Homo sapiens: one gene and its partners. The protein of the gene in region 1 interacts with the protein of each later gene in a biochemical or structural test. Each region holds a gene or a part of one and is shown in the gene's direction. Other genes may lie near its edges.

Evidence for each region.
Region 2: the proteins of EGLN1 (region 1) and FRMPD1 interact in a test that uses a peptide from one of them, tested with the Homo sapiens proteins (one large-scale study listed by IntAct).
Region 3: the proteins of EGLN1 (region 1) and PDZRN4 interact in a test that uses a peptide from one of them, tested with the Homo sapiens proteins (one large-scale study listed by IntAct).
Region 4: the proteins of EGLN1 (region 1) and DLG1 interact in a test that uses a peptide from one of them, tested with the Homo sapiens proteins (one large-scale study listed by IntAct).
Region 5: the proteins of EGLN1 (region 1) and ARHGEF12 interact in a test that uses a peptide from one of them, tested with the Homo sapiens proteins (one large-scale study listed by IntAct).
Region 6: the proteins of EGLN1 (region 1) and PLD1 form a complex in vitro, tested with the Homo sapiens proteins (one study listed by BioGRID).
Region 7: the proteins of EGLN1 (region 1) and DVL3 interact in a test that uses a peptide from one of them, tested with the Homo sapiens proteins (one large-scale study listed by IntAct).

The regions. Positions count from the first base shown.
Region 1 is NC_000001.11:231,373,584-231,377,652, reverse strand, and holds part of EGLN1 (egl nine homolog 1), read left to right. Parts: intron 1-3,553; coding exon 3,554-3,673; intron 3,674-4,069. UniProt on the Homo sapiens protein: Cellular oxygen sensor that catalyzes, under normoxic conditions, the post-translational formation of 4-hydroxyproline in hypoxia-inducible factor (HIF) alpha proteins.
Region 2 is NC_000009.12:37,741,071-37,745,139, forward strand, and holds part of FRMPD1 (FERM and PDZ domain-containing protein 1), read left to right. Parts: exon of another isoform or gene 1-282; intron 283-3,318; coding exon 3,319-4,069. UniProt on the Homo sapiens protein: Stabilizes membrane-bound GPSM1, and thereby promotes its interaction with GNAI1.
Region 3 is NC_000012.12:41,565,331-41,569,399, forward strand, and holds part of PDZRN4 (PDZ domain-containing RING finger protein 4), read left to right. Parts: intron 1-500; exon of another isoform or gene 501-976; intron 977-2,452; coding exon 2,453-2,569; intron 2,570-4,069.
Region 4 is NC_000003.12:197,134,085-197,138,153, reverse strand, and holds part of DLG1 (disks large homolog 1), read left to right. Parts: intron 1-1,475; coding exon 1,476-1,612; intron 1,613-4,069. UniProt on the Homo sapiens protein: Essential multidomain scaffolding protein required for normal development. Recruits channels, receptors and signaling molecules to discrete plasma membrane domains in polarized cells.
Region 5 is NC_000011.10:120,342,738-120,346,806, forward strand, and holds part of ARHGEF12 (rho guanine nucleotide exchange factor 12), read left to right. Parts: intron 1-4,069. UniProt on the Homo sapiens protein: May play a role in the regulation of RhoA GTPase by guanine nucleotide-binding alpha-12 (GNA12) and alpha-13 (GNA13). Acts as guanine nucleotide exchange factor (GEF) for RhoA GTPase and may act as GTPase-activating protein (GAP) for GNA12 and GNA13.
Region 6 is NC_000003.12:171,803,895-171,807,963, reverse strand, and holds part of PLD1 (phospholipase D1), read left to right. Parts: intron 1-4,069. UniProt on the Homo sapiens protein: Function as phospholipase selective for phosphatidylcholine. Implicated as a critical step in numerous cellular pathways, including signal transduction, membrane trafficking, and the regulation of mitosis.
Region 7 is NC_000003.12:184,161,672-184,165,740, forward strand, and holds part of DVL3 (segment polarity protein dishevelled homolog DVL-3), read left to right. Parts: intron 1-1,985; coding exon 1,986-2,055; intron 2,056-2,595; coding exon 2,596-2,717; intron 2,718-2,820; coding exon 2,821-2,930; intron 2,931-3,124; coding exon 3,125-3,260; intron 3,261-3,441; coding exon 3,442-3,535; intron 3,536-3,750; coding exon 3,751-3,820; intron 3,821-4,069. UniProt on the Homo sapiens protein: Involved in the signal transduction pathway mediated by multiple Wnt genes.

The DNA.
Region 1 (4,069 bases):
TTCTATTCTGGGATGTCTGGCTCATTTTGACAGTTATCGATAAACTCCTCTCCTACCCGATGCTTGTAATTAAAACTGCTCTTTCACCTAGTGTTTCCATTTTCATGTACAGTGACTCCATTCATTTACTTACCTAGGCTGAAAACCCCGTAGTCATTCTTGACTCTTCTTACTCTCCACTCATTAGCAAATCATGTTGGTTTTCTGCCTTCAGAATACACCCCACTTTGCTACTCTGGGCTCAGCCTCTTTGGTTTCTTGCCCGGAAACTTTAATAGCTAACTTAGTCTTCTCTTTTCACTCTTTGCTTCCTGCAGTCTAGTACAGTGGTTAATTCCATGGGTTCTGGAACCAGATTCCCTGTCATGTGACTTTGCGAATACTAATTAGCCTTTCTAAACCTCAGTTTAGAGGAATGAGGATGAGAACAGTGATACTGTTTACCTCACATGGTTGTGTCAGACAACTTGTTATGCACAAATTACTTAGATAGGACATGGCAAACAGTAAATGTCCCATAAATGTTAGGTGGTAAGAGATATTGAGGTTGTTGTGGTTGTTTTTATTCATACAGACTTGAAACTGATATTCTCAAAACATTAGTCAGATACATTCTCTGTTGGCTTCCTGGCCCTTCTTAGCACAATATCCAAAGGCCTTCCTGTGGCTTACCAAGCCCTGCAGCTCTAGGTTACCTGGTTCCTCTCTGATCACATTGGCCCGTGCTCGCTGTGTTCCAGCCACACTGGCCTGCTGCTCTTTCCTGCCTTGTTCAGCCTTTGAGCACTCATTTTCCCTCTGCCACATTGCTCTCTCTTCAGAGATTTGCCCAACTTGCCGCTCCCTTCATTTAAGTCTAAACCCAAATGTCAACCACTGTTCAAGAATATCATGTCATCTTTCTCTATATACCTAATTTTTTTCATATCTTAAGAAAATACAACTTTTCACTACCTAACATTACATTATATATCTGTTTATTGGCTAATTATGCTGTTAGACCAGATTTCATAGTACAATAGTCCCCTCTTATCTGAGGGCAATACCTTCCGAGACCAAGTGGATGCCTGAAACTGTGGATAGTACCAAATCCTAATATACTATATTTTTTCCTGTACATACATACCTATAATAAAGCTTAATTTATAAAGTAAGAGATTAACAACAACAGTAAAATAGGACAATTATAACAGTATGCCAGCATCGCTACTCTTGCACTTTGGAGCTGTTATTAAATAAAATAAGGTTTCCTTGAACACAAGTACCACGACGATTGCTCTGATGACCTAGAAGGCTACTAAATGACTAATGGGTGGATAGCATCTACAGTGTGGATATGCTGGACAAAGGGATGATTCATCCCAGGCAAAACGGGGCAGGACTGCAAGGTATTTCAGTGCACTACTCAGAATGGTGTGCAATTTATAAACTGTTTATTTCTGGAATTTTCTATTAAATTTTTTGGACTAAGTTGACCAAAGGTAACTGAAATCACAGAAAGCAAAACTTCTTATAAGGAGGGACTATGTAAATGAGTGCAAGGGACCTTTTCTCTTTGGTTCATCGTTTTAGCCCCAGTGCCTTTCATATACATAGTCGATGTTCAAGAGGTATTTGTTAAATGGATATATGGGATGTGATGGGGTGAGTGACTGACAAATATTTTCCCCTTCCTTCTTTACACAAGAGATGCTGAAGTTACCAGATAGTTGGAAAGGCCCAAATTAACTTTTTTGAGATGTAGAGTTCAGGTTTCCCCCTTCTTTCCCATGAATAACAATATATTGTGTAATTCATCATAATTACTTCAGTTAACCACAAATGGAGTAATTGCATTGTTAAATTAGTACCCTCTTACAGTTACTATTCAAGGTAAACTTCTTTCCTGGGTAGCTAGTGACAAGAAAATCATTTGGGCTCATCATTTATTGAGCACTTAAACCCACTAAGCCCATGCCACACTCCTGGTTGTTACCAACCTCCAGTGCTGAAAGAAGGAACTTGTTAAGTCTGTCTGGAATCAGGAAAAACAGAGACATATATAATGTTCTCCAAAAATTCTGCTGCTTATAAAGAGCAGTGAATTCAGAGTGTCTAGGGAAACAGGATTTTTAAATAAGGATTTAGGTTTAAGATGCCTCTTAGTTTCTTAGGGATGGGAAGTGAGTTTTAAAAATTAGCATTTTTCTTTTAATATGATAGTAGAACAATTCGGTTACTGTTTGATAACTTTATACTAATTCATTGACTTTATTATATGAAGAAATAAAGGACTTCAAGAATAGCTCATAACAAACCGGGTGGCGTGGTGGCTCAAGCCTGTAATTCCAGCACTTTGGGAGGCTGAGGCAGGAGGATCACTTGAGGTCAGGAGTTTAAGACCAGCTTGGCCAACATGGTGAAACCCTGTATCTACTAAAAATACAAAAATTAGCCGGGCCTGGCAGCATGCACCTGTAATCCCAGCTACTCGGGAGGCCGAGGCAGGAGAATCGCTTGAACCTGGAAGGTGGAGGCAGTGAGCTGAGATCGTGCCACTGCACTCTAGCCTGGTCAACAGAGCAAGACTCTGTAAAAAAACAAACAAAAACAAGAATAGCTCATAACCTTGAACGTCTTTGTTTGTTTTCTTCATAATTCCTGAGAATTTTTTAAAAAATACCATTACCAATTTCAGTTAATTATCATGTACACCTAGAATATGGAAGTTATTTTGTGCTTTTTATTTTGGGCCTCTTTTCTACCTTTAAGCTTAACATCCAACAGTCTTCTGAACCATATCTTGTTATAATCTGAGCAAATAATTTTCTTTCTGATTGAAAGAGGGTAAACATAAGCTAATTTGTTTAGTCCTTTTTTTAAAAAAAAATCACTGACACTAAATGAGTTAATGTTTGGAGTTTAGTTGACCTCCTAAATTATCCCTATTACAACATAGTAAGACACCATATCTACAAAAAATACAAAAATTAACCAGCCTGGTGACACGTGCTTATAGTCCTAGCTACTTAGGAGGCTGAGGTGGGAGAATCACCTGAGCCCAGGAGGTTGAGGCCGCAGTGAGCCATGATTGCATCACTGCACTCGAACCTGAGCAACAGAGCCAGACCCTGTCTCAAAAAAAAAAAAAATTGGTACCATTCAGAGACAGTGTCAGATGGGGTGTTGACTGGGTTGGTTCACCTATCAGATGGTAAAGTAGGTGTTCTGAGGTGAGCTCAAGGAAGATTGAAATCTCCCATGGAGCAGGACAAAAACGTACTTGATCTTGATTATCTGTATTTATAAAGATTGTCAAAGTAGGACCAAGAAATTTTTCTGATCTTTGGAGTTATCACTGTGAAGCAGAATTCACCAGTCCTTGTTCATCAACCTATCTTGTGTTCCCTATAAATGTTAATGTAGAATAGCCTTATCTTATCTACAAAATATTATTTTTATTAGAAGAATCTAAGTGTAAATCAGTAGCCAAAAATCAGAGATCTGATTTATTAGCTGTTCTCTCTTTTTATTTATACATGGACTTTAATAATCATTATTATCATTATTACAGGCCATGGTTGCTTGTTATCCGGGCAATGGAACGGGTTATGTACGTCATGTTGATAATCCAAATGGAGATGGAAGATGTGTGACATGTATATATTATCTTAATAAAGACTGGGATGCCAAGGTATGCAACTTAATTGAGCATTTATTTTTTTCTTACAGGTGTCTTTTTCTCAAAAGCATTAAGTTTCATACTTCTGATAAGACTGTCACAGACACAGTTAAAAATTTTCCTCTTAAATTTGTTTCAGTCTCAGGTATTAGGAGTGGATTTTTGTAAAATGAAACAAATACTACTCTATGTTATACAACATGATACCTGTAGTTAACAACGTAGTGTTGTGCACTTAAAAATTTAAGAGGGTAGACTCCATGTTCAGTGTTCTAAACACACACACATACACACACACACACACACACACACACGCACACACGAGGTTAGGGGAAGGGAAACGGAACTTTGAGAGGTGATGGATATGTTTATTACCTTGGTTGTGGTGTGTCATGAGGGTGTGCGTAT
Region 2 (4,069 bases), on another chromosome or scaffold:
GTTCAGACAACTGTGGCAAGCAGATGGGAGGGATTCATCCAACAGTGGGAATCAGGGAAGGCTTCCCAGAAGAGGGGGCAAATGGGCTGGGCCCTGTGGGAGGGACAGAATTTACAAAAAAGGAAAGGGCTTGACAGGAGTGCCCGGCAGAGCGAAGTGGCTATGTCATCACTGATCCTGAGGCTGCATTAAAGGAGGCCTTGAAGCAAGAAGAACCAGACAGACAGGCCGTCTGTGGCCCTGCAAGGCCTTCTGGGGTCCAAGGGACCCTGACATCAGAAGGTAGGGGATCTGGTGGCTGTGTTTCTATCAGGTTCCTCATACATTCCTCCACCGAGAGTGTGGAGGGTCTTTCCAAGCAGAACTGAGATCCTGGCAGGACACACACACACACACACACACACACACACACACACACACACTGCATTCTGAAGGAAACATATTGGAAAAGAGCACATGGATGTTGAAGGTGACCTGCCAGGAGCTGGGAGAGCTGCAGCCCTTGTTCCTGTCTCGGCACTTTCCTGCTGCTCTCTGATCCTCTATTCCCAGACCTCCTGTGCTCTCCCACTGTTCTGGAGAGAAAGGCCAGCTCCTCTGGGAGCCCCATCAGGCCCTTTGAGGCCCTCTGTGACATGGCCTCTGCCTGTCTCTCTCCCTCCTCCTGCATTCCTGCCATACAGACCTCCTTGCCACTTTCTACAAGTGCCTGTTTTTTCCCCCTCCTCCAGCCTTTGCACATGCTGCTCTTTCTGACCGAAACACTCCTCCCCAGATCGTGGCTGATGGTGCCCATCCGTCTATCAGATTCCGGTTGGAATTCACTTCCTCAGAGAACATTTCCCAGGCTTCCCAGGCCAGGGCAAGTCTCCCCATCTCTGTCACATGTTCTTGCATTACCTGGGGCTCTCCCTGTCTGGCACCTCGCACAGCCTGTAAATTACATATTTACTTGTATGATTCTGTGTTGATGTTTCTCTCCATCACTAGACCGAGAACTCCTTTGAGCGTTAGAACTGTGTGTTTCTCACTGTGTCCCCAGCACACAGCGTCTAGCAATTGTTGTTAAATGAATGAATGAAGTCTCCACCATCTACACTGAGTTCAATTGACTGTACCTCTAAGGAAAGGAGAAACCATGGCCAGACTCCTTACTGCTCCCCAAAGTACCCAGACAACCACTTTCCATGCCCCAGCCTTGCCCTGCAGGGCCAGCCATTGTGCCGGGGGGCAGGATGGAAGTGTGGCAGAAACCATCAGTCAGGGCCCTTTTATGGGAGTCTAGTCAGGAACATATGGGGTTCATACCAGACACTGTTTTGTTTTTGTTTTTGTTTTTTATAGGGAGCCAGTGTAGTGCTGAGAAAAGAGCCAGAACTAGGATTCCTCAGCCTGGGTTCTGATTTGGCCCCTGACTGACTATTGGAGCCTCTTTGTCTTTGGGACTTAGAAACTCCTTGGTCGGTGGCTGTCAGTAGCCTAGGGCAGTCAAATGTGACTGGGCATCAGAATCACCTGAGGGACCTTGTTTAAAAACTATAGATTTGGCCGGGCGCAGTGGTTCACACTTGTAATCCCAGCACTTTGGGAGGCAGAAGCAGGCAGATCACCTGAGGTTGGGAGTTTGAGACTAGCCTGGCCAACATGGCAAAACCCCATCTTTACTAAAAGTACAAAAATTAGCCAGGCATGGTGGCGTGCACCTGTAATCCCAGCTACCCAGGAGGCTGAGGTAGGAGAATCACTGGAACCTGGGAGGCAGAGGCTGCAGTGAGCCGAGATTGCACCACTGAACTCTAGCCTGGCCAACAGAGCAAGATTCTGTCTCAAAAAACAAAAAACAAAAAAACCTAAACCTTATAGATCCCTAGGCCCTAGCCTCAGAGATTCTGACTCCTCAGAGATTGTGGGGAGCAGCCTAGGACTTGATAAGGTTTCTAATAGCATACAGCCAGGTTAGAAATGACTGGTCTGACTACCCAAGCTCTCTGATTCTCAAGTGCTAGGCTCTGATCCTAATTCCTTCTGGCTGATTCCCAAGGGTTCTTTACAATAGTGCCTCTCCTCCCAGAAAGATCCATCCTGGGATGCACAAAACTCGATGCCTGTGACAGAGTTGTGGCCCCTTTACATTCAGACATGAAATGGCAATAACGAGCAGCTTCCTTTTAGTGAATACCTAATGAGGCAGAGGCCTTGTGCTGGGTGCTTTATAAAAATGCACTAATTCCTTTAACCTGCACGGCAGCACTGAATGGCACCATTGGCACTAAAAGACTTGGGTTAACATCAGCACAAAGAAAAAGTGTTAGGAAGTAAGATTGTTTATAGAATTGCTGGCAAGCCTGAAGACCTGGGTTCAGAAATAGACAGCAACCAGGCTAAGAGTCTAGTCACAGGATTCCCTACCTGTATTATCAAGCTATTGTGGTTGGAAAGAATGGCTCTGCTTTTTTTTTTTTTTTTTTTTTTTTTTTTTTTTTTTTTTTAATGTCTTTGGGTTTGGAATTCTGGAGAATTTGTAGCTGATTGGCTGGCGTGGACAGAGCATCTTCGTGAACAGTTCCAGCAGACTCTAACCATTGGGGAGATGTCATTCCCTAAACAGAAGTTGAGATGCTGTGACCAAAAGATAATTAAATGGATCTTAGGCATCCAAAAATTTAATAATGTCTATCACAGCTGGGTGCAGTGGCTCAATCCTATAATCCAAGCACCTTGGGAGGCTGAGGTGGGAGGATTGCTTGAACTCAGGAGTTCAAGGCTGCTGTGAGCCGTCACACCACTGCACTATAGCCTGGGGGACAGAGTGAGACCCTGTCTCAAAAAAAAAGAAAAAAAAAAGTCGGCCAGGCGCGGTGGCTCATGCCTGTAATCCCAGGCCTAGGTAGGCGGATCATTTGAGGTCAGGAGTTCGAGACCACCCTGACCAATATGGTGAAACCCCATCTCTACTAAAAATACAAAAATTAGCTGGGCATGGTGGCAGATGCCTGTAATCTCAGCTACTCCGGGGGGATGAGGCAGGAGAATTGCTTGAACCTGGGAGGCAGAGGTTGCAGTGAGCCGAGATCACGCCACTGCACTCCAGCCTGGGTGACAGAAAGAGACTCCGTCTCAAAAAAATAAAAAAAAATCTGTCACAATTATTATCCCCATCTTTCAGATGAGGAAGTTGAGGAGATCAGGATTGAACTTGCTCAAGGTTACACAGCCTAGCCAGAATTTAAACCCAGGAAAGCCCAAGGCCTGAGCCCAAGCTCTATTAACCTCTTTTTTTTGTGCTTTTTAATGTATTTTTTCTTTCCTGACTCCCAGGGCCCAGAGATGTTTCTACTGCAGAACCCAGTGCCACAAGCTTGCAGAATAAGGCCAGCACTTCTAGCCCTGAGAACAGCCTGCCTTGTGGGCCAGATGGAAGACAGCCAAGCAGGAGGGGAGGGGTGAAGAAATATGCCAAGACCCTGAGGAAAAGAAGGTCTTTCCTACAGACCGACTACACCTCTCAGGTCTCATTTCCCCTGGTGCCATCAGCCTCCCTGGAGAGTGTAGACGACGTGTGCTACTATGACAGGGAGCCCTACCTGGCCCTTGGTGCACCCTCCCCAACTGTGTCCTCTCTGCAGGACATGCAGGGTGAGCCTGGCCTTCTGGAGACCAAGGCCTTGGGGCTGCTGGCTCCTCTGAGGGAGACCAAGAGCACAAACCCAGCCTCCAGGGTCATGGAGATGGAGCCCGAGACCATGGAAACCAAATCAGTCATCGACTCTCGAGTGTCTTCTATTTCTGCCATTCGCTTCCGGATTGACCCCAACAATAAAGAGAATTCTGGTGTTGTCCCTGCTGCCAGCTCCTCAGCAAGCACTCCTCACTGTTCTAACCCAGGTTCATCTGGCCCAGATACTGCTCAGGCAAGGCCTTCCCAAATCTTACCTCTATCTCAAGACCTGGATGGGATTGCCCCCAAAGAACCAACCATAGAGCATGGAGACAGCTCCTTCTCCCTCTCCAGTGGTGACCCTAACCCAGACAGAGCCTGCCTGGCCAGCAACCCAGGACTAAATAATGT
Region 3 (4,069 bases), on another chromosome or scaffold:
TGCCTATAGAAAAAAAAAACAGATTTCCAGAGAAATCAGGAAAAGAAATACATTTTAATACCATACTTTTAAAATGTAATTTAATCAGTACATGCTATAAAGTGGCAAAAAAAAAACTAAAAAAAAAAAATCTTGTCTTTATATCACCCATATTTTTCCATTGAACTCAATTTATCTCATTGTTGTATGTTTTTTTTTTGCGTGTGTATTTTATTCGGGGAGAATGTGGAAGCTTTTGTGTGCTTTTTCTAGCTTTTTTTAAACATTTTTAACGTTTCAAATACTCTCTAGATTCTTGGAAATGATCTACAGAGTTGCTGGGGGCAGTATTGTACATCTGTGCAATATTTTTAAATAACTCATTTTCCTCATTTCCTGTCAACTCTCTTTCATTTTCTGCCCATTTTCTTCCTGAGACCATTAAAGATATTGCTTTTCTGTCCTATTTCCCTCAGGACACTGGGGCAGAGAGGATTCTCATAAGAACTTGTAGCCACTACCTTTGAGACAGTGTAGGTTGTTCCTTTTTCTGAGATGCCACATGTGGCCCCCTTTGGTGCAGATAGATCCCCACTCTTAGTAGTAACAATCCCTCTTTTCCTGCAGCTCAGCTCAAGGGAGATGTCTGTCTCTGCCGTTACATTAGACTCAGACCATAGTGAATGTACATCTAGGTAGAAAGGGGGAAATAGGAGAGAAGAAGGAAGTGAGCAAGAAGAATCTCCCTTTGCTAATTGTGCTGTGTGCACCTCCAGCCTAAAAGAAAGCCTTATCAAAATAGACATATAATGACTATGGCTGGCAACTCAGGAATCTACTGGATTACTCAATAAGAAAAGAGTTATGGGGAATCATTAATTTTGACCATTTTCTCTTTATTTTCCCCACTACTTCATTTAATCCTCAAAGGACTCTGTTTCATCATTCAATATATCAGTGTTAGAAAATACTTTATTTTGACCTGATTAAAGAAAAATTCCTTGATGTGTTTGTGAATAGTAAGCACTCCCCATTTTAAGTAATTTTTTATGATGTCTGGCATTTGTAGCTTTATGATACTTGAAAAAGATTAAAGAATGTAAAATTTGAACAATTATAAATTGGGCTGAATTTACATTTTTACTTGGCATAATTTTCATAGCTCATCTGCATATCAAAGTCACAGGAATTTGATCAAATTATTCAGGCGACATTAAGATAAATGAGGATGAACAAATGTGCCAGCACTTTGGGCCCCAGTTAAGTTTGAGGTCATTTAAGTTCTACATGGCCTTTAATAGATATCATGAAATCTATGATTTGCCTGCATATTAATAAAGATGATACCTGTATGCTAATGCCTCTTTTGGTGCAGCTGAATGTCCTTTCCAGTTTGTTTTTAAGTTGTAGAAGTTCAGTTATGTTTAAAAGCTTATTTTGCCAGTTCATTGGTGGTGAAAATATCTCAAACTATTATCCATGTTTGCTCACTAGAATGCTATTTCTTTGTACAGGGTGATGCAGAGTTTTGACGATAATCCAGTTAATTTAATCAGCATAGACAGCTAATTTATGTAATCCAGCTCCAAAAATCCACTTTGAGGCAAATTATCTGTAGTAACTGTCAACACTGATCATATTAGATCATATTAGCCAGGTAACCACCAGTTTTCCACTTCACTTTGTATTGAAAAGCCGAAGGGATTTGTTCAGTTCAATTTGCATTAAGAGTCCTACAAGAATACTTGTTTTCAACACCCATAAACAAAACCCTGCATGCCCCACACCACTCCACCACCCTTAAATGTCGCATCCACTGAGGTGTTTTTCCTATAAAATTGGGCCTGAAAACAAATTAAAATAGACATGGAGTAATATTGCTTTTCTTTCCTTTCCTTGAGAAGAATAACTTAGAATTTTCCTTTCTTCACAGACAAAATAAATGTCTTCTGTACATTCTTTTGTGGCAAGCAGCCATCTTGTTGACATGGGAGCCCACCTAAAAAGAAAAAAGCAGGATGAGGATAGCACGAGCGTATGGGGGGAACTTTGTGTGCAGTCTCGTTGGGGGTTGTTGTTAAAGAAAACAGCCCAATTGTCTCATAGCCCAATTAGTAGCATGGCAGTCCTTTTAACACGGGACTGTTGGAGGTAATGAGCATGACAGCTGTGGATTATGCAGGATGCTTTTCATACATTTTGAAAGAAGGTAATATTCTGTGCTGTGAGATTTACTTGGTTATGAGAGAAAATCTGTAGTCCCATTTCAGGAAAGGATAAAAGGCATAAGAGTCCTTTTTTTTTTTTTTTATCACCTTTTCTTCTTTCTGAGAGGTGAACTGTGGGAGGCTGGTATTCTGAAGAGAATCATTATGATAAAAGGAACTCGTCGGGCACCGGCCATTTAAGTTTACTCTATTTTAACATGAGTTCTCACTAACATAATATAATGTACTAATGTATTCTTTTGCAGCTGGATGAAGGCTGGCTGGAAGATGAAAGGAATGAATTCTTAGAGGAGTTAAACTTGGAGATGTTGGAAGAAGAGCATAATGAAGCAATGCAGCCCACTGCCAATGAGGTGGAGCAGGTAGGGCCAACAATTTGAACTACATCATTTGATATGTTGCTTGTTCTTTTTTTAATGTGTAACCATAAATGAAGATGAAAACAAAATCAAAGGGTTTAATCCATCATCTCTATCATGGTAATTTTTTAGAGCAAATGATCATCTCAAATGAAGCAGAGGGAATAAATAAAATGTTTTTCCATTAAGAATATATCCAGTTTGGGAAGCTTGGGGACAATTGTTAATACAGTACAGTAGTATTCAAATGTTGACCCAGGCACTACTTCAAACTAATTGCAGAAATTTAAGAGTAAAAAATGTGTGTTGCTTATCAATATGCCAGCTGAAAACAAACTGAGGTAGCTTCCCCAATAAGTAATTTTTTTTACTCTAAAATATTAATGTATCTATTTGAATACTTAGGCTATCACTATAGGATGAAGATGACATGATGTAAGCCATCAGTTTTATTTGCGTACTGGATGGCGTGATTACACCTGTATATTCTGAATAATCGTAGAGATTATCCTTGGTCTTATGGCTGCTGTTGACACATTTCCCATAGTATAACTTGTGCAACATTTCTCATAGCATAGTTTGAGATTATTAACATCATTTTGCCTTGAAGTCACATATTCATTCAACTAAACACTTTGAACTCCTAATATGTTCCAAGTACCCCACTTGAAACTGAGAATAAAAAGAAAAATGAGCAGAACTGCTGTCCTTAATGGATTCATAACTAGTAAAAGATCACAGTGTGATTAGTATATTATTTTTATTGTCTTTTTCCCATTTTACAAAAACAAGTTCAATGTATTCTAGATTTTTTATGTTACACTCATGTCATTTATCTGCCTGATATAATTTTGTTTTCAGTTTACTGATTTGTTTAATTATCTTCCTATTCTCAACATTATTATATGTATTTTATTATATATATATATACGGAATCTTGCTCTGTCGCTCAGGCTGGAGTGCAGTGGCACAATCTCAGCTCACTGGAACCTCCGCCTCCCGGGTTCAATTGATTCTCCTGCCTCAGCCTCCTGAGTAGCTGGGATTACAGATGCCCACCACCATGCCCAGCTAATTTTTGTATTTTTAATAGAGACAGGGTTTCACCATGTTGGTCAGACTGGTCTTAAACTCTGACCTCGTGATCCACCTGCCTCGGCCTCCCAAAGTTCTGGGATTACAGGCATGAGCCACCGTGCCCTGTCTATTCTTATTATTATCATTATTATTATTATTATTTTAAGATAGAGTCTCACTCTGTCGCCCAGGCTGGAGTGCAGTGACACAATCTCAGCTCACTGCAACCTCTGCCTCCTGGGCTCAAGCGATTCTCCTGCCTCAGCCTCCTGAGTAGCTGGGACTATAAGTGCACGCCATCATGCTCAGCTAATTTTTGTATTTTTAGTACAGATGAGGTTTCACCATGTTGATCAGGCTGTTCTCGAACTCCTGACCTCAAGTGGTCCACCAGCCTCAGCTTCTTAAAGTGCTGGGATTACAGGA
Region 4 (4,069 bases), on another chromosome or scaffold:
TCTGTGACATACATTCCAAGTACAGTATTAGTAATATTCTACAGAACTTGAGTGGATTTTAATTTCTCCGTTATTTCTACTGATTTTTGTCTTACGTAGCATTTTAGAATATTTACATTTCTACCAAGATTGCAGCATTTGAAAAGTTCCTTTTTTTGCGGGGTTTTTTTGTTTGTTTTTTTGAGGCAGGGTTTTGCCCTGTCACCCTGGCTGGAGTCCAGTGGTGCAGTCATGGCTTACTGCAGCCTCAGCCTCCTGAGCTCAAGCGATCCTCCCACCTCACCCTCCCAAGTAGCTTGGACTGCATGCACACACCACCACACTGGGCTGATTTTTTTTATTTTTTGTAGAGACGGAGGCCTCCCTGCATTGCCTAGGCTGGTCTCAAACTCCTGGGCTCAAGCAGTTCTCCCACCTCAGCCCCGCAGAGTGCTGGTATTACAAGTGTGAGCCACTGCACCTGGCCCAAAATTCTTACGTTTATTGATGTATGCTTTTATACATTTTACTGCAGTGAGCATATATATAAATTTATAAGTTTTTTATGATTTTTATATTCAATATTTGCTCAGCATGTTTTTAAGAGTTTTTAAAAGTAGGGAACAAAATATCTATTTGTTTTATAAGTGGATATGTCCCTATTTGTATTAAGTATTCTTATATTGAAGACTTCTAGCATTAAAAGAGTGAAATATTTGTGTCCTTGAACACTTTGAAGTTTAGTATTGCTATTAACTTGTGATAATCTACAAAATACTTTAAATGCAGGTACACAGGCTAAGTTAAAAGAAGAAGTGTTTATAATATGTATTATGAGCAGTTACATCTGCAGTAAAGGACTGTTAAGATGTGATTGCTGAATTTTTAAAACATTGATGGCTTGAGGATAAATGGAAATAGTAGTTTCAATATGTGGCTTCATGGAAGAGGGAGGATGTCAACAAATGAAAAAGGAATGGAGAGCTGAGAAATTATCTGATATTGAAGCTATGGGATTTAGGAATTACAGAAATTCCTTACTTAAAATTGTTAATTCATAGAATATTGAAGAAGAACAAAGGTATTCACATTTTTAAAGCCTGTTGGTTCTGCCCACCATCACCAGACAATGTTGTTATTTCTTCTCAATAATTTTGTTCTTGTGAAAATATTAAAAGTGTAGGTAAGCATAATTATGATGGAAACAAAAGTAAAACATAATTTCGCAATGTCACTTTGGAATAACAAGTGCATTTGCGAAAAGATACTAAGAAGGAACATGTGGGATAAAAGGAATCTATTCGTAACTCTAGGAGCAGCTGTATGTCTAAGTGTCCCTTGATTGCAGAACATATACTAGTAGATAACTAAATAGATTCTTTTCTATTTTAAAAAATATTAGTGTGAGGGAATAATTACCTTGTAGTTTTCAACCATTTCTTTCTGGGCTTAAGTTCATATTTATGGATGAGAATCTAGAACTGTTTTCCAAACAGGTCTTGGGTTTAGCATTGCTGGAGGTGTTGGAAATCAGCATATTCCTGGGGATAATAGCATCTATGTAACCAAAATAATTGAAGGAGGTGCAGCACATAAGGATGGCAAACTTCAGATTGGAGATAAACTTTTAGCAGTAAGTATAAGAAATCTATTGTCTTTTAAATCATTTTGTAGTCTGTTTATTTTTCTGATAGATACTGGAATTTCTCCATACCAAAAAGGTCTAAATGATGTTTAAATTAGCAAATACTAGCCTTGCTGTATCAAATCCTAAAAAATGATTCTTGGTAATTCTTTATTTGTCATTTCTCTTTTCTCTGCTAGCTCCTCCTCCCTTTTCCTTTTATTCCTTTGTTGTTGTTGAGGGCTTGTATGCACAGAGTGTTTCATCATAATCCTTAGGTTTATAAAACAATGTCATCATTTGTTTATGCATGACCCTTTTTTATTTTACTTCACTTAATAGTATAATGAAACCTAGTAATTACCCAGCCCAAGAATTAGAACATCAACCATTTTGTGTTTCTTATTCCTTTGCTTCTTAAAAATTGTTTAATCAGGCCGGGTGTGGTGGCTCACACCTGTCTGTAATCTTAGCACTTTGGGAGGCTGAGGTAGGTAGATTGCTTGAGCCCAGGAGTTTAAGACCAGCCTGGGCAGCATGGCAAAACCCTGTCTCTACAAAAAATACAGAAATTAACCAGACCTGGTGATATACACCTATAGTCCCAGCTCCTTGGGAGGCTGAGGTGAGAAGATCACCTGAGCCCAGGAGGTTGAGGTTACAGTGAGCTGTGATTGTCCCACTGCACTGCAGTCTGGGTGACAGAGTGAAAGCCCATCTCAAAAAAAAAAAAAGTTTAATTATATACATATGCCTAAATAATTTTGTTTAGTATTATTTGTTTTGAAGCTTTTTCAAAACACTATTGCACTGTATGAGACTTTCATCTCCAGTATTTTTTTCACTCAATATTGCTTTACTGAGACTTACCCATATCATTGCTTAGAGCTAAAGTTCATTCATTTTATCTCTACATACTATTCCACTGTATGTCTGTACTGCAATTTATTTGTCCAGTCTTCATCAGTGTATTAGTTTGTTTTCACACTGCTATGAAGAATTACCCGAGACTGGGTAATTTATAAAGGAAAGCGGTTTAATTGACTCACCAGACTCAGGAAACTTACAGTCATGGTGGAGGGTGGGGGAAAGCAAACACGCCCTTCTTCACATGCCAGCAGGAGAGAGACGTGCCAGCAGTGGAAATGCCAGATGCTTATAAAACAATCACATCTCATGAGACTCACTCACTATCAAGAGAACATCATGGGGAGCCACCTCCGTGATCTAATCACCTCCTACAAGGTCCCTCCCCCAACACATGGGGATTACAATTCAGGATGACATTTGGGTGGGGACACAGAGCCATACCATATCAATCAATAACTGTCTCAGTCCATGTTCCTTAGGGAAACGGAATCTGAAGAAAAGCTAAAGTGCTAAGGTATTATTTGGCTGTGTGATCTCAAGAAGGCTAGAGTGAGTAAAAATGAGGAGTGAAGCAGAGAATGAACGAGAGCCAATAGAAGGTAGAATGTGTCTGAGCTGGCTGTAATTTTATAAGGTAGCTTGTTGCTTGTCATGTATAACAGTCTTCTAGGCAGACACTGTAAAAACCATCCGGGCATCATAAACCTTACATCCAGCCATCCAGAGAAAAGAAAGAAAGGTTTATCTGCTGGCCCTTTTATTCTCCTGTCTCTTGTCTACCCCCTAGGGGTTATTTGTCCCAAGCTTTTGGATTGTGTTACCCAACTCCCCTGGGCGCAGTTTCTAGGGAAGCCAGCTCCTATACTCCATGGCACAACACTTCACCCAAGCCCAAAAATGGTAGAGTTGCAGTGGTATGACAGGTCAAACATAGGTTTGTGACATGTTATGGCCCTCACTGTGTGGAACACATCAGCCATGCCCAGTCCCAGCCAGAAGAGGCTCAGAAAACTGGGAAGGGCAGGAGACAAGATGAAAGTAGTATAATAGTCAGGACTCTCCACTGAGCAAGCAGCCAAGGCCTAGCAGAATCTGAAAAGGCACATAAACTGGATCTGGCATAGTAGGAAGTTGGTTTTTAAAAATATACTAGCAAGTACTGGTTTTTAAAAATCTATTTTAAGTCTTTTTTTTTTTTTTTTTTTTTTGGTATTATGAATAATTTTCCTGGGAAGAGCTGCTGTGTGTTCTGGTGAACATGTACAAGAATTTTACTTGACTGTCATGGGATTATTGATTATCCTACTAGTAGCATTCTTTTTAAAAACCATCCTGTTGTTTTCCAGGCTGCTTGTAAAAATTTACATCAGCAATATATAAAAGATTCCTTTGTTCTACATCCTGTTTAGTACTGTTTATTGTTGCAAGGAGACTTTTTTTAGTTAATGATGGCGAAAAGGAAAGAGCAGAACTTGAACTATGTTTCTCTAACTTATCCTTTCACAGCTAAGATCACCACTCTTTCCTCAAACTATAACCAGTACCATCTCACCATCACTCATCACTCACACACAAACACAGTCAAGACAGCCTTCT
Region 5 (4,069 bases), on another chromosome or scaffold:
AATTAAGCAATTACTCATGTTCTAAAAGGCTTTTTTACAAAGCGATTCTTTCAAATATGAGTACCCTCAATGTAACAAATGTTATCAATTCTATGACAAAAGGGTAGGGTATAGAAATAATGTTAGCCACCTTTGATGGAAAATCATCTTGTTGCAATATGATGAAATACATCAGGAAGTTGTTTCTTATTTTTTCCAGTGGTTTTTCAGTTCGTTATCTTAAATTGTAGGTCAAAACATTCCTCGATGTTTGGTTTATTTTTACCTTATTGTTTTGTCTCCTCTTATTTCCACATGTTAGTGAAATAACAATGCTTAGCAGTATTTTTTTTTTCAGTAAAATGGATATTGTGAAAATTGAAATATTTTACTTTCTTGCTGTTGTATTTACAAGAATTGTTAATGACAAGACAGTGTAACAGAAAAAGTGCATATTTAGATTATTATAAAATCTGTAAGACTGTAGACCTTTTGAATACTTTATTAGCATATTTTCTTTAGTACTATTTTAGTTTCAAATTATTGAGATAGATGTCCTTGTTTTGTATTTTGCTAATATTAATATTTTGTATTTTGGTAATACTAAAATTTGCAAACATGCCAAATTTAGAGCATTTTACTTTTTCAACTTAGAATATCTGGAATCATCAAGATAGTCATATAGGGAAGACCGCTATAAGACAGCTTCTAACTCCAATAGAAGCCTATGAAGCTAGTGCCTGGTCAGAGGCTGTGCCTAAATTGCATGAGTATATAGTGTCGACTTTTAGTAAAAGAAAAAATACACTAACTTTACCTCTTGAATTAGCATGCACCAATGCAGTTTAGATTCATACCGAAACAGGATCTTTTACTAATTCAAATGCTGAGTCCTGGTTTTTGAGATCACAGTCACATGACAGGCCTGGGTGGCTTCTCAGTGTCTAGAGACAAGCAAATCTACTGGCCAATGAAAAGTAGGTTTCCTGTCTTGGACTGCAAGTAACAATTCATGCAGAAATTGGAACTATATAAGAGAGCCTGGTTTTAGTTAATGCTTTCAATTAGCTGCTTGTCACACTGCTTTTTCTTTTGGTGTTATATAACACATTAGAGTCATTTAAAGGTACACTCTGATACTACAGTTTTTGTCAAATATTACATATAAATGTTGATTTTACATTCATATACTCAAAAGATCAAAGAGGACTTTGTAGATCTTTTATGGATTCAAAAAAATGTAGATTATTTTGTTGTAGAAAAACTGGCCAGGCGCGGTGGCTCATGCCTGTAAATCCCAGCACTTTGGAAGGCTGAGGTGGGCGGATCACTTGAGGTCAAGAGTTCAAGACTAGCCTGGTCAGCATGGTGAAACCCTGTCTCTATTAAAAATACAAAAATGAGCCGGACCAGGTGGCACATGCCTGTAATCCCAGCTACTCGGGAGGCTAAGACAGGAGAATCACTTGAACCCGGGAGGCGGAGGTTGCAGTTAGCCAAGATTGCACCACTGCACTCCTACCTGGATGACAGAGCAAGACTCCGTCTCAAAAAAAAAAAAAAAAAAAAAAAAAAAAACTGGAGACTTCATCAGCCTCTGAAGGAATGATACCTGAAATTGATCTTGTAATGCAGAAAGTGGCTATATGTTATCCAGAAGAGTAACAGATACCCCAAATACACTTGCTAACACAAGAAATCCTGTGAAGGTGCTTAGACATACCCTTCCATAGATTTTAGATGGGTTATCTGCCTATGTTCCAGACACAAGCCGATATGTTGTGGTTTGCCCAGTACAGTCTCTGTGGTTTACTGAGAGGAAGTGGTTCTTGTGGGTGAAGGTCTGATCTTTTCAGAGATTGTTGGTGGCATATGCACTGTCAGCCTATTTCCTGTTTTATTGGCTGTTTAGCAAGACCTTCTTAGGGCAAGTGCTGCTGAAGAGGTATTTAAATATTTTGTATTGGCAGGATAGATGGTTATAATGATGTATTATTATATCACTACTTCTCAGGTGATATGAGAGTTAAATGAATGTTTGTGAAGTGCTTTGAGATCTTAGGATGAAAAGTACAGACATGTTCTTAGTCATTTGCAGGTTACTGCTATGTTCAGATATTGCTCTCTTGAAGTTAAAACTTGTTCATGTAGTAAAGTGTTACTCTATTAAACTTGATTTCTGTAACCATTCAAGTGTTGTTTTATCACCACAAGAGTCATGATTAGAATTTTTCCCCTTTTTTTCCTTTCTTTCAATGCTCCTTTATGATTTTACCCTAGAAGAGTTTCCTTAATAGATTCCTTGCTCTAGTACTGGTTAAGGCATATTTACCAAACTTAACACCTAGCAAGCTTGTCCAACCTGCCTTATTTTGCTGTTGTTCTTCTGTTTTGTTTTGTTTTAGGCTTTCAGCAGCCTGAAGCCATGGTTTTTAGTTTCTGTCTCTAGTGATAAAACGGAAAGAGGGATGAGGAAGGGGCTTTACTGGCCCATCCAGAAACAGAAACTAAGAACCCATGACTGTATTCTCTCCCTTGAACAACTGTAACTAGAGCAAACCTCTTTGCCAATTTAACTGGCATACTAAAATAATGAAATTGTGAGAATTTCCTTTGAGATTAGTAACTGTACCATCCATATACAAAACACTATATTGCTTTGCTGAAACCTGAAAGTGAGCAAACTGATAGAAATGCATATAACAGGCCGGGCGTAGTGGCTCACGCCTGTAATCCCAGCACTTTGGGAGACCGAGGTGGGCGGTTCAGGAGGTCAGGAGATCAAGACCATTCTGGCTAACACGGTGAAACCCCGTCTCTGCTAAAAATAGAAAAAATTAGCCGAGTGTGGTGGCGGGTGCCTGTAGTCCCAGCTGCTGGGGAGGCTGAGGCAGGAGAATGGCATGAACCCAGGAGGTGGAGCTTGCAGTGAGCCGAGATCGCGCCACTGCACTCCAGCCTGGGCACAGAGCGAGACTCCGTCTCAAAAAAAAAAAAAAAAAAAACGAAATGGCGTATGTCATACTCCTAAATATATATATATATACAGTATTTAGCCTTGGACGTTAAAAAAATTAACAATGAATGGGGGAAGGCTTTATTTAAAGCTAAATTGTTAGCTAATACGTGAGTTCTTCAAGGGTATAAGAATAGTTCTTATTCATTTTTAAGTAATTATCGGTAGCCTTATTATATTTTTATTTTTTAATACTGAAAAGCAGAAGGAAGAAAAATAAATGGCCCAAATGATCCAACTACCCAGATGTTGCTGCTCAGGTTAAACGCACACACGCATACACACACAGAAAATTCAAATCATATAAAATGGTATAAAAAAAAGTATTCCTACACACCTGTTAGTTTTCATACCTTCTCCTCATAGGTAACAATAGTTAATTTTTTTGGTTTATCTTCTGAAACATTTAAAAATATATACCAGCCTATAATTTTATTTTTTGCACCTACTCCATAATAAGTGTATCTGTCTTCTTTTGCTAGGTTATGCTGCTGTAGCAACACTATCAAATTTCAGTGGCTTACAACACTGCTTTTCTTCTTGCTTATGCTACACCTTGTCAGCTGTGGATTGACTGCAGCATTGCTTCACGTTTCTTATTTTGGAACCCTGGCTCAAGGAGCATCCCCTGTCTGGGCTGTGCCATTATTGTGGATGAGGGAGAGAGCAAGAAAACAGATGCAGACATACAATGGCTCTTAAAGCTTTCACTCAGTCATGTTGTATGTCACATCAGCTCACATGTCAGTGGCCAAAGCAAGTCATATGGTCAGAGCTCACTGTCAGTGGGGTAAGGATGTATAGTCCTTCCACAGGTGGCATTGCAAGTTGCATGATAACAGATAAGGCTGTATAATCCTCTTAAGGAAAGTGGAGGTTAAATAATTTGGAACAATAAATAATATAGTCTACATCAACAAGTTCAGTAAATGCTTGTTAAATGGGTTATTTGGAGTCTATGAAAGTTTCTTTTTTTTTAGTGGGAAATTCAAACATAAACAGAAGTACAGAGAATGGTATGATGAACCTCCCTTGTTCCCTTTATTACTCCAGCAGTTAATGTACGGACAATCT
Region 6 (4,069 bases), on another chromosome or scaffold:
AATTTGCTTAGGATAATGACCTCCATCCGCATCCATGTTTCTACAAAGGACACGATTGTGTTACTTTTTATGGCTGCATGGTATTCTATGATGCATATGGACCACATTTTCTCTTATCCGGTCCATAGTTGATGGGCATCTAGGCTGACTCCATGTCTTTGCTATTGTGACTAGTGCTGTGGTGAACATATGAATTTGTGTGTGTTTTTGGTAGAACAACTTATTTTCTTTTGGATATATACCCAGTAATGGGGCTGCTGGGTTGAATGGTAGTTCCGTTTTGAGTTCTTTGAGAAATCTGCAACTGCTTTCCACAGTGACTGAACTAATTTACGTTCCAACCGACAGTGTATAAATGTTCTCTTACAGGATGTTTTTTTAAAAAATTTTTTTTCTCTTATAATTTCACTTTTGTTGTGGTAAAATATGTACAACATAAAATTTACCATTGTAGCCATTTTTAAGTGTACATGTAGTGGCATTAAATACATTCACATCGTTGTGCTACCGTCACCACCATCCATCCACAAGACTCTTCATCTTTCTTACAGGGTTTTAATAACATTTTAATGATAATGGTTGTGTTGCAGGCTTTAGTTTTATCACTAAGCAAGGTTTGAGTTCCTTCTCGTAGCTTTAGAGAAATGCACCTTTTAAACTTTTTTTTTTGAGACAGGGTCTCACTCTGTTGCCCAGGTTGGAGTGTAGTGGCACAACAGCCTTGACCTCCTAGGCTCAAGTGATACTCCCATCTCAGTTTCTGAGTAGCTGGAACTAGAGGTGCGCATCACCATCCTTGGCCAGTTTTGTTTGTATTTTTATAAAGATGGCGTCTCACTGTGTTGCTAGGGCTGGTCTTGAACAGCTGGGCTCCCGCAATCCTCCTACTTCGGCTTCCCAAAGTGCTGGATTACAGGCATGAGCTACCATACCCAGCTGAGAAATGCACTTTTAAAAGAGAAAAGGTAAAAAGCCATAGCCAGACTGTTTAACAAATCTTATCTACAGCAGGAAAGACCTAATACATTACTGTTTGAGGATAAGCTTGTGATGTATTTAAACTTGTGTCTAAGGGTATTGTGGGGTTTAGCTGTCAAGAGGAAGGAACACGTAAGGGAATTATTGTTATTGATCATTTCCTCTCCTGAGTATCTATCAGAAAAATAACAATTGTCAGTGTTGTCCTCTATAGCAGTGCAAATAGTACCTATCTAAACTATGCTTGAGCTCAGGTAGTGTTGCCTTTTTAGTAACTAAAAGCAGTGTGTAGCAATTTCCTGTCCATCCCAGATGTTTACTAAAGATTGATACTAGGGGACCCAACACATAAGATATGTCTCTTTAAACTTGTAGTTAGGCTGAGTCATTGTGTTCACAAGAAAAGCTGTAGCTCTGCAAGGTCTGGTTTTGTGTTTACAATCCTTTAAGTCTTAGCACCACAAAATAAAATGTATTTGCTAGGGTGTGGCTAAAAGTTGTTGCAGGGTTAAAATGAGAAACATGTAAACCTAACTTTCCCATAAGCCTGTGACATTTCTGATTACAAAGAGAATCATACAAATCGCATCTTATGCTTCAGTGGGAACACATTCCAGTGTGTTAGTTTCCCTAAATTCACAGTGCAGTGTAAAATCTGGACCCCAGCTGTTTTAGTGCTGGGTTATTAAGCAAAAGTGTATGTTACGTAAGTGTTTCATAGTGTCACAGTGTTTTTTTTCTGTTGTGAAACTTTCTTAATTTTTAAATTTATTGAGCAAACATTACAACGACAGAATAAAATGAATTATTTATTTAATAAACACTTACGTGGTGTTTACTTTGTGCCTTGCACTCATCTAAGCATTTTACAAACATGAATACATTTAACCCTCAGAACAACCCTGTAAAGTAGGTAATCTTATTATGGCCGTTTAATTTATTTATTTATGTTTGTTTTACTGTATTTTATTTTGTAGAGATGAGGTCTTGCTATGTCACCCAGGCTAGTTTCAGACTTCTGGGTTCAAGTGGTCCTCCTACCTTGGCTTCCAAACGTGCTGGGATTCACAGGCATGAGCCACTGAGCCTGGCCTATGCCCATTTTATAGATGAGGCAGTTTGAGGCATAGTGAGATCCCACAACTAGCACATGGTAGAGCTGGGGATCCATCCCAGGCAGCTTGCACCCAGAGTTTTGACACTGCTGTCTGTCTAGAAAAAAACATAACCTGTGATTCCATCCTCTTAACAAACTTTTTTTTAGGTTTTTTTATTTCCATTTCGTCCTTGTTCTTTGACATAATTGCAATTATAGTGCAACTCAGACAATCTGTTCAAGTCCTTTATTTTTCGGAAAACGAAATTAAGGTGGAGCATGGGTATGTCAAAGGGTAGAAGCACTGGGGCAGGGTCCTGGAGATCCTCTGCTGGGCCAGGCCTTAACTCCTGATTGTGAGGAGATTGGGCCAGGGATCCTGGGAGAGTCTGGGAGGCCAGGTGTATTTGGAAGGGGTTGGGTGTTATGTGCAATATTTCCAGAGGGAAGCATTTCAATATTTTAATAATTGTTATGACCATACTAGAGCTAATCTGCTAAATAAGGGCCCACATTATGGCCGACTGGGTCATGGCAGGTCTTGCTTCCTAGGGCTCCAGAATCCTGGATTGCTTCCCCCGTTGCTCCTAATGCCCGTGACCCTCAGCTCCCCTCTGGATGAGGGCAATATTTTATTCTGTACTCAATCATTTTTTGAACTTTTTGGATCTAGAGTTGGGAACCTTTTGGAAGCCTCTGACGCACAAAAGAAAACCAGCCAAAAGCAACATGGAAATAAAAATAACTTAGTTTAGTCAGTTCTTTTGTTAAGAAAGAGAGAGAGAGACTTCTGAGGCCATAAACTTATGAACTTTATATTAAGAACAGGAAAATAAGGGTTCAGAATTTAACAGTGATCTTTTTCAAAGTAGGCTTTTACAGATGGCACATTTAGATGAAGGAGAATAGGAATAAACATGGGGAAAAGGAAAGCCGTAGAAAGGGAGGGGAGAAACAAATGCAGAGACGAGGCATTGGCAGAGGGCCACAGATAGGAAGCAGGGAGCTAATACCTTTGTCAATTCTTTACAAAAAGCCTTGCATCTCAGTGTGTTACCACTGGATGATGCCTTCAAAATCTCATAAGCAGTTGGAGATGATCTTTCCTTTGGTTTATCTTGATGGGATCTTAATGTTTAAACTGTTGCTAATCAACAAAGCATGTGGACAATAAGATACAAGGGAACTCTTAGCCCCTGATTGGGATCTTCATAACAGTCTAGTCTAGTTTGGTTTATGCCACTTTCCATGGGTGGATTTTATATGTAGTGTGATATTAGAATCACTGGATTTGCCATTATTTTTTCTATTGTCTGTCTTCCGTGTGAGAGGGCAAGGTCCTTGAGGTCACAGACTGTGTTTTTGTCATTTTTGTGTCTCCAGTGTCCATTGTAGTGTACAATAGATGTGAACTGAATGAAAGGGTACATGGATGAAGGGAGAAGGTGTAATCCATTTTATTCAAAATACATAGGTATTTCCAGAAAATAAGTCTTTATAATTAACGTTTTACTTATTTATTTGCTCTATGGTGCCATTTAACTATTCTTAAAAATAAAATGTGTAGATGTAGAATGGACAGTCTGTGGCATTTTGGGTAAACAGCTGTACTCACTTCATTGATCTTTTTCTGCCCAATTTCTGATGAAGGAGTCCTTTGAAATAAAGAGTTTGAGTAGGTAGCCATGGGTTGGGATTGGAGATTTATGACTTGGAGCAGAAAAACATTTCCAGATGTGTAGGGCAGTGGTCCTCTGAAGATACAGACCCAAAAGTGAGAAATTTAACCAAAGGGGCTAAGAATAGGAAAAAAAAATGAAGATGATGTTTTAGATATTGTTTTTTAAATGTCACCATTATTCCTGCTTTGGAATAAAAAGAGGTAAGAGGTAAGGTAGGAGTACAGAATTTGGGGATGAAGTATATTTTTGGCACTAACATCACTGTGATGTTAAAACTATTTTTAAAAGATAATAAATACCCACACCTCTGACT
Region 7 (4,069 bases), on another chromosome or scaffold:
TCCGTGACCACATTCCACACCCTTCATGCCTCACATCATTGTCCTCCAGCACCCACTCTCCACATAGACCCACATTACCTCTGTTATTATATAGGAAAGAATGTGAAATACAGTGGAAAGAGTATGGATTTTGGAGTCAAGCCTGGGGTGAAATTCCAGCTCTGACATCTACCAGTCCTGTGACCTTGGACAAGTTAACTGAATACATCTCAGTTTCCTTATTCATGAAATGAAGATCATAGTCTGCCCACTGAGGCTGATGTGAAGATTATAGGTTCTAACTATAGGAAGATAAGGTGGTGTAATGGTAAGAATGCAGATGTTAGAGTCAGGCTAACCAGGATTCAAATTTCAGCAGTTTAGGAGAATTACTGAACCTATTGAGCCTAGTTTCCCCATTGTACCTGCTGCCTTATAGCATTGTTGTATTAAATGAAATTATATAAGTAAAGTGTTTAGCATAGTGCTTGGCCCATAATACTCATTTATGCTCAATAAATGACAGCAATTTTTTTTTTTTTTTTGAGACAGGGTCTTGCTCTGTCACCCAGGCTGGAGTGCAGTGGCACAATGATAGCTCACTGCAGCCTTGAACTCCTAGGCTCAAGCGATCGTCCCACCTCAGCCTTCCAAGTAGCTGGGACCACAGGCATACGCTACCACGCTCGGCTAATTTTTGTATTTGTTTTGTTTTGTAGAGCCGGCACCTCGCTATGTTGACCAGGCAGGTCTCAAAACTCCTGGCCTCAAGCGATCCTCCTGCCTTGGCCTCCCAAAGTGCTGAGATTACCAGCGTGAGAAAGAGCAATTATTACTGTTAATTATCATAATGGCATGTGGAAAATGTTCAGTAAATGCCTTCTCCCCTTCTCTTTTTCTTTTTCTTTTCTTTTTTTTTTTTTTTTTGACACGGAGTCTCACTCTGTTGCCCAGGCTGGAGCACAGTGGCGTGATCTCAGCTCACTGCAACCTCCACCTGCCCGATTCAAGTGATTCGCCTGCCTTAGCCTCCCAAGTAGCTGGGATCACAGGACTGGTAGATGTCAGAGCTGGAATTTCACCCCAGGCTTGACTCCAAAATCCATACTCTTTCCACTGTATTTCACATTCTTTCCTATATAATAACAGAGGTAACGTGGGTCTATGTGGAGAGTGGGTGCTGGAGGACAATGATGTGAGGCATGAAGGGTGTGGAATGTGGTCACGGGGCATGTAGTTTGGCCGGGGGAATGTGGTGAGGCAAGAAGTCAGGCAGTAACTACAGTTTGGGGCTAGGAAGGGGAGTGGAAAAGTTTGAGGACCCTCAGACTGTCAAATATGCCAGGAGTACAGAGATGGGAAGACACCCAAGTAGATGGGTGCACACCACCACACCCGGCTAATTTTTGTATTTTTAGTAGAGATGGGGTTTTGCCATGTTAGCCAGGCTGGTCTCGTACTCCTGACCTCAGGGTGATCTGCCTGCCTCAGCCTCTCAAAGTTCTGGGATTACAGGTGTGAGCTATCACGCCTGGCCTCCCCTTCTCTTTTCTAATTTTCTTAAATTCTTTGTCCATACCTCCCACAACAATGTTAGGATTCCCACTTAAGAAAGGAAGGACAGTTATAATTGTATGCTTTTTTCCAATTAGGGATCAGAGGGAAAGAGAAAGTCTAGCCCAGGAGAGTCATGTTGGGGATGGGTAGAGCACTTTAGAGATTTTAGGGAGTGGCATGGGGGACAGTGATGTGTCAGTTGTAATTTGCAATCACCTGATGACTGAGAGGATGCCCCGGGAAGGTATCTGGCCTAGGCAGGGCTGGTGTCTTCCTGGTGGTGCCAAAGAGCTGTCTCTGGGTCTCCCCAACCTCTGCTTTCATTTGAACAGTCTTGTGCTGGTGGTTTGATTCCCAGTTTAGGATGGAGGAGCCCCTGAGAGTTGGGATTTGAGGATCCTCCATTTGCACCCTAGAAGGTTCTCTGTGACATCCCCCTTTCTCTGCAGAGTGGTGAAGGAGGAGATCTCGGATGACAATGCCAAGCTACCATGCTTCAATGGCCGGGTGGTGTCCTGGGTAAGGAGCCCTCAGCCTTCCATCCACCTGCATCCCTGTGCTGGGCTGGACGAGGGAAAGGCATCACTGAGATTGTAGCTGGTGGTTTTAAGCTTCAGTATCTGAATCTTTCTTTAGTTTTGCAAATGAACTGCTTCTCACCCCAGATTCTGTAACCTTTGATGAAAAGTGAGAAATTAGTGGGAAGGGGGAAGAGGGAGAGACGGAAACACACAGTGGAGACAGTAACGTTTCCTATGCCGTTCAGACACTTGCCTCAGATTTCCTTCTGCCATCTGCTCATCTCTGCCTTAGACCTCTGAGCCTTGTTCTTTGTCCCCATTCCACTTCACCACCCCATGCCTTCCAACAACCCCGTCAATAGCAGGAAGTGGCAGAGGGGCCACTGTTCATCTCAGCCACCCTCGCACAGCCCTGTCTTTTCTCCCTCGATATTTCCTGCTTCCTTCCTCTTAGGCCTTCATGCCTTGCTGGAAGTGAACTATCCCCTTCTCCTTGATGCTCCTGTAACATACTACTCACTCAGTTTCTCCCTTTCAGCTGGTGTCAGCTGAGGGCTCACACCCAGACCCAGCCCCCTTCTGTGCTGATAACCCATCGGAGCTGCCACCACCTATGGAGCGCACGGGAGGCATCGGGGACTCCCGACCCCCATCCTTCCAGTGAGTGTGACCTGAGGGTGGGGAGGGCCGCATCAGTTCAGCCCAGGGCTGGGGGAGGGAGCCCCCAGCCTGCCCCCTCCCCCATCAAGTCTCTTCCCTGCAGCCCTCATGCTGGTGGGGGCAGCCAGGAGAACCTGGACAATGACACAGAGACGGACTCTTTGGTGTCTGCCCAGCGAGAGCGGCCACGCCGGAGGGATGGCCCAGAGCATGGTATATCTTCCTGAACACGGACACTGTCCGCACCTCACACCCTCCCCTCACTTTCCACCCAGCTACCCACCTTCTTGCCCTACTTCCCGAGCTCAGGATATGCCTGGCCCCAGTGCAGCCCCTGGCTTGCCTCTCTCCCTCCTTCACCCCTGCACTGGGCACTGTGTAAACCCAACTGCTTCCATCCCCTGCAGCAACCCGGCTAAATGGAACTGCGAAGGGGGAACGGCGGCGAGAACCAGGGGGTTATGATAGCTCATCCACCCTTATGAGCAGTGAGCTGGAGACCACCAGCTTCTTTGACTCAGATGAGGATGACTCCACCAGCAGGTGGGGCTTGAGTTTCATGGGTATTGTGGGGCAGGTGACCCTGGAGGAGCCCTAAACCCTGAGGATGCGGGGCCCCTGGGAGGCTTATGGGCTTTGTGTTGGGGACCCAGGCCCTGCAGTGCCTCCCCTCATGGGGGCAGGGCTGGGCCAGCCTGGTGGGGAACGACTGTGGGCCCCACAGGTTCAGCAGCTCCACAGAACAGAGCAGTGCCTCACGCCTGATGAGAAGACACAAGCGGCGGCGGCGGAAGCAGAAGGTTTCTCGGATTGAGCGGGTATGGGGTCTGGGAGGCTAGGGATGGGTGGAGGCAGATTGTGAGCCCTTCCTACGCAGGGCCAAGGCTTGTTCTTCCTTAGATCCCATCCCCCTAGTGCAGTGTTGAGAACCTTGGGGCTGGGGGCTGCACCGGGGACTCACCTTGAGGAGGAGTCAGGTGGGAGTGAATTCCTGCCACCTCCACCTGCTGCTCAGGGCCTCTGTCTATTCCAGTCCTCGTCCTTCAGCAGCATCACGGACTCCACCATGTCACTCAACATCATCACGGTCACTCTCAACATGGGTGAGTCTGAGGAAACAGCACTCTCAAGCACCTGCTATATGCCAGACACTGGGCAGACTTGAGTTCAGAGAGCGTAGAATATGTTCCCTGCCCTCAAGGAGCTCTCTTTCGTAAACATCAGCTGATACATAAACTGATCATTTTAGTATCTCACCATCAGGGCTATGACAGAGATAAGCACAGAGAGCTGTGGAAGCAGAAAATGGTATCAGGGAAGGCTTCCTGGAGGAAGTGATTTCTGAGTGCCCA